Regions from separate parts of the Homo sapiens genome. Here region 1 is linked to region 2. The links come from fine-mapping of genetic effects on gene expression. A gene starts in region 2. The other region holds a variant in brackets. All regions are shown on one strand. Distances are from middle to middle.

Region 1 (2,801 bases), 130 kb before region 2:
TTCCAAAACAGCTCTCATCCAAGTCAGCAGTGCTAAACTCTGCGGTCAGTTTCTCAACTTCATCCTCTGCCGATCACCTCTTCCATCTTGATTTTCATCACTTGCGTCTAGGGCATGACCTTCTGTTGGTTCTTCTTTTGCTTCCCTGGCCCTCTTTCTCAGTTATGTGTGCTAGTTCTTCCTCATCTCTTCTCAATATTCCCTCCCTTCCTCTGGCTTGTTGCTGAAGACCATCTCCCCTCACTAGAGCACCCCATTCCCCTTATGCATCACCTCCAACACAGCACACATCACCACCTGGCACTTGTTTTTGGGATGTTCACTGCCTGTCTCCTTACCACACCATAGCATCCATGACCACGGCCAGGTGCGGTGGCTCACGCCTGAATCCTAGCACTTTGGGAGGCCGAGGTGGGCGGATCACCTGAGGTTGAGAGTTCAAGACCAACCCCACCAACATGGGGAAACCCTATCTCTATTAAAAATACAAAATTAGCTGGGCGTGGTGGCACATGCCTATAATCCCAGTTACTCGGGAGGTTGAGGCAGAAGAATCACTTGAACCCGGGAGGCGAAGGTTGCAGTGAGCCGAGATTGTGCCATTGCACTACAGCTTGGGCAAAAAGAGCAAAACTCCGTCTCAAAAAAAAAAAAAAAATCCATGACCATACAGATTTCTGATGTTTTGCATCTGTATCTCCAGCATCTGTATCTGTATCTCCTCGCATGCAGTGGCATTTAGTAATGTGTGATGAGGGACTGACTCGGTCTCCAACCTGCCATCACTGGAGTTTCCCAGGACTCAGTCCTTAGACACTTCTCTACTTCCTTCTCTTCCCACTGTCTGCCTGCTGGCAATTTCTGTTTACGCCACTAGCTAGATACTTCCAGGAAATCTAGGCCCATGTATCTGACTGCTTAGTTGACCTCTCCACCTGAATATGTCATAAATAGGCATCTCAAACGTAATCATATTCAAACTTTCACTCCCAGTCTCCCAAGAGCACCGCAGCCTTCCCCATCTCGGAAAATGGGAAGGCTCTTCCTCCAGTTGCTCAGGCCAAAAACCTTGAATTCAATCTTTCTTCCTCTCTCCACCGAAATCTTTCCAGAAGCTTGTGCTGCCGGACCTTTGCACTTGCTATTCGGCCTGAAATGCTCTTCCTGCAGATATCTGCAAGGTTGGCATCCTCACTTCCTTCGGGTCTGTGCTCAAAATTCACCTTATTAGAAAACCCTTTCTGAACCACTCGATATATTCAATTAAATACCCATTCCTCCTCTTTCTCCTTTTCCTGCTTTAGTGATCTCTGAACCATTTATTGCCACCCAACATACTATACATGAACCTATTTCTCTGTCTTTAGCCATTGGTATATATATGTTCTTCAAGAGCAGGGTTTCGGTTGCTCTGTTTACT[A/GCTA]CTACTTCCCAGCCTAAAAACACTAGCCTAAACAGCCTAAAGTAGACGTCCAGTGAATATTGGTTGAATGAATTCACCTGTCTATTCCTGCCCTAACAGTGGGGATAAGGCCACCCTTGCAGGGTTGAGAGGATTAACTGAGACAGCCTCTGACAATGCCCAATGAACACTCAACAAATATTAGCAGAAGTAGGAAAACAACCTATCTTTTGGACTAAATGCTCCGAGAAGGGAGGTGACCTTTATTTCCCTCATGAATTTTATAACCCTTCCAGTTCCAAAAAGGATGACAGGCAGTGCAGGCAGACATCATTCTGTTCGGCTGAAGTTCAATGAATGGCATTGCTGCTCTCAACCTCTTTTGGGTACTATCCCGCCTAAGAAAAGCGGGGTGGGAGAATGGAAATATATTTGCATTTTCATGCATATTAAGTCTCCCACAAAGATGGCTCTTTGTTTTCTTACGGTTTGCAAGCTCCTGAGGACTAGAAATCGGTGAAGGGGGAGGGGAGAGCGAGTGTTCTGAGATTGTTCCTCCCATCCCCTCCCAAAGCTAATCTCGTTCTAGCACTGCACTGCTTTTCCAAACTAGCTGTTGTATGCAGTCCCATTCATCCCTTCTCTCCAGAACTTGACACCTGTGGCTCCTGCAAGTGGAAGGCCCGGGAATGGGAATGAAGCGGGGTGGTGGGCAGGGAAGCGTTATGCTCGGAGAGCCCTTAAAATTCTCCTGGAGGTCGGCAGCGGCGCCCGCCTGTAGCCTCCGGCCTAGAGGCTTCGCCGCCCCTCGGACTAGAACACAGCCCGGCCGTTGTGCTTGCCTCCCCTTCCCAGGCTGTGAGACGGCGGCCGCAACCACCCAGCGCCTCTGGGGATCCGGCCTCTGGTGCTGGGCCCGGGAGAGGGGGCGCTTGGGCACCGGAAGATCCGGAGCGTGCGGGGCGTGGATCGAAGTCTCCAGACCCTGGGCGGGGGAAAGGGGAAGGGAGGGGGAAATCGAGGAGGCCTGAGCTTCTAAACCATGGTGGGGGAGGTGCAAGAGCGCGCCCTGGACCCAGATCCGAGAGGGAAACCTGGGCCCCAAGGCTGAAGGGGGTGAGAAGGTGCCCGGGTCCCGGACCCCGACTGGGGAGGGACGGCCCCAGCCCCGGCCCCGCACCGTGACGCGGAAGTGGAATCCCCTCCATCCTCACCTCTGAGCATCGGCTCGGGCCGCGGAATTACGGCCACCACCATGGCCTCCTCCTCGTCCTCCCCTTCCTCGCATTTCAGCGTCACCTCGAAGCAGTCGAGTGCGGCGCCCTCGGCCTTTAGGGCCATGGTGCGGCCGTGGGCGATAGCAGTGGCCGGAGGACTGGCGCGCAGGCTTCGGCGCGCAGCC
Region 2 (2,801 bases):
TTTACGGCCCTGCCTTTGACAAAAGGCATTTTTTTTCCCTTCAAAGACTCCGTTCCTTTGAGAACTACCACCTGCCCATGGTGGTTTTTTTTTCCCCCCTTAAGAAGGCATCTGCACTGCAGATTTCTGCATAAGGGGAGCTTGCCAGGCAGCTCTTACCAGCAGGCAGACGCGTATACAATGCAAACTAAAGGAGGTCTGCAGCTTCGTTCTTAGTCTTTCACAGAGATGGGAGAAGGGGACTCAACCAGCCCTTGCTTTGTCTGAATGTTCTCCCCCTCCCCCTTTCTGCAATAAACACCCCCCTTTGTTATACTTCGATCAATAGTAGCCCACAGAAAACATGAAATCAAAACATGTTGATAGCTTAGCATGACTCTATTTTCTAGAATATAAGCGACTGATTGCGTGTCCCCACCCCCACGCAGCGCCAGGGAAGAGCAGGCTGTTGCAGATGCAGCCACGGATCCATCTTGGACCATTAGCAGCTCCCTCCCAAATCTTCCCTGAGCTATTCTCATCACGCCTCCTTCTACCTCGGAGCCTCAGAAAAATCCGGCATTCATGGAGTCTAGCCGAAAACAGTAAAAACAAAACAAACAAACAAAAAAAACAGGCTACAATGCTTCCATTAAACTTCCTCATCCTTCCCATGGGCAGCCAAAAATATTTTGGAGGACTATCATGAATGCTTGATTATGTCAACACCTGTCTGCAAACCTGCAATGCAACCCTTTCACCACCATCCCCTCAAAAATAGTAACAAATTGTTTCTCCCACCACCCACCTGCCCGTATCCTTTCAATCTCTCTAATCCTCACTAAATCACCCAGGTTCACCATATGCATCGAGCAACTCTCCATTTTATCCCACGAGCTGGTATTTTTCCCCACCTGCCCAGTCTTGGCGTTAACGCCCACTGGACTATCTCCCCGCCCCCAACCTGTTTTCCTCACACCCCGCTATTTCCTCACCGCCTGCACAACCTTACGTTCCCCTTCCCCTTTGCCCATTTTCCAAACGCTCGTCCCCGGGGGGCTGAAGCCGTCAGTAGTCGAGGGTAATTCGTCCTCCTCCCGCCTCGCCTCCTAATCCCCCCAGCCCCCAGGCTCCCGCTCGCCCTCTTTCCCAGGGCGGGGGCTCCCCGCGCGCCTTACCCGCACAGGAGGAGCTGCAGCTCTTCGTCCCCAGGGCGGGGCAGGCTCCTGGGCTCCCGCCGCCGCCGGGCGCGGACGGCTCGGCTCCGAAGGACGACGAGGAGATGGAATGGGACTGAGTGGCCGCCGACGGCTCCGCCATGGCTACGCGAGCGAGGGTGGGAGAAGGGTGAAAAGAGATACGGGGCGGGAGAGAGGGAGGGGAAATAGAATAATCCGGCAACTGGCTCGCTCAAGTCCCTTTACTCCGCCTGCTCCGAGGACAGACTCCGACAGACTGACTGACTCAGCCGAGCGCAGCTAGAGGGCGGGAGCGCGAGCGCGCATGCGCACAAAGGGCCCCAAGCGGGTGCCAAAGCGCGCAGCGGCGCAGGGCGCAGGCGCAAGAACCGCTCCTCTGCGCTCTTGCAGGGAAGGAGGGGCAAAGCCGGCCTCACGCGGCGCCTCGCGCGCCGAGGGTTGGGGAGCGTCCCTTGGGGACCAGACGCAAAAGGCGTATCCAAGCCCCAATCCCCGCCCACGACTGCGGCTAATCGTGGAGCTGCGGGATAGTATTCCCTCCTGCCTCTTTATGTGAATGTTTTAGGGTCGGCAGATTATGTATTTTAACGGTAGAAATGTCTTTGGGCTTCCATTATGGAAACTCTCTTTCCCGTACATTCCAGAGCCTATATCTTTTGTTTGATGCATTCCCACCTGTGACTCCAATAAAAACTGAAAACCAGAGTGTAGAGTAGGCCCACTCTGCAAGGTGCTTTGTGAATCTCACTGGCTGTGTCGTAATATCTCCTCACCGAGAGGCAGAGATGGCACGGCCCCCCATTTGGTAGGTGGAGAAAGATGCTATACAGAATGAAAAACGATTACTCATTCCAATCACATTGCAATGCAGTCGCAGAACCTGCTTCGTATTCTTATCTCGTTACTGTTGCCAGAGAAGGGTCCACCTTGGGTCTTAAGGTTCTCTTTTCCTCCGAATAGACTGTCAGATAGAGACGACATATTTTAGAGAGGGAAAAAAAATGCTGAGCTGATGAAGAAGAGCCAGGAGATAAGAAAATGTTGGCTGTGATTATGGGGGATGATAAAATTAGATATTAAAAATTCAGAATAAGGCCGCAGTCAGTGGCAGAGGCCCGTAGTCTCTGCTACGGCAGAGAAGGGAGGATCACTTGAGCCCAGGAGTTGGAGTCCAGCCTGGGCCACACAGCGAGAACCTTCCTGCCTTAAAAAAAAAAAAAAAAGTAAAAAAAATCAGAATAAGGCACAAAATACACATAATTGAATTTTATTCATAGACTAAAAGAGGTCCTTAGCAGAACATGTATTTAAAACCAGATTTCTAGCCTATATTGGATTTTGTTCATTTTTTGCTTTTCCTGGGCTGGATTGCCAAATTCGAAGCCTTCTCCCTACATCTGGTCAAAATATTGGAAAGGTGCATAGTCTTTGTTAAAGGAGGACTGTTGGCTGGGCGCGGTGGCTCACACCTGTAATCCCAGCACTTTGGGAGGCCGAGGCAGGTGGATCATCTGATGTCAGGAGTTCAAGAACAGCCTGGCCAATGTGGTGAAACCCTGTCTCTACTAAAAATACAAAAATTAGCTGGGGGTAGTGGCGGGCGCCTGTAATCCCAACTACTCG

Alleles and levels. Alleles are on the strand shown, and positions count from the first base shown. SD is a standard deviation of normalised expression in the study named.
For the expression in monocytes of the gene that starts at base 1,436 in region 2, A is the low allele of the variant in region 1 and GCTA is the other (large effect, 0.84 SD a copy in BLUEPRINT).

The links. PIP is the estimated chance that this variant, and not a neighbour inherited with it, causes the effect.
Region 1: its variant is fine-mapped to the expression of RTN3 in monocytes (BLUEPRINT, PIP 0.93).

What each region holds. Positions count from the first base shown.
Region 1 is chr11:63,813,626-63,816,426 of GRCh38, reverse strand. SPINDOC (spindlin interactor and repressor of chromatin binding) reads right to left here. Exons shown (of 6, transcript NM_138471.3): 1 at 2,614-2,801. The coding sequence starts at 2,740. Among named protein-coding and RNA genes, the nearest start is that of SPINDOC, 1.6 kb to the right of the region's middle. The variant A/GCTA (reference allele first, on the strand shown) is at 1,421.
Region 2 is chr11:63,680,135-63,682,935 of GRCh38, reverse strand. It overlaps RTN3 (reticulon 3), which reads right to left and starts at 1,436. Exons shown (of 9, transcript NM_001265589.2): 1 at 1,158-1,436. The coding sequence starts at 1,299. RefSeq lists a silencer at 1,144-1,263.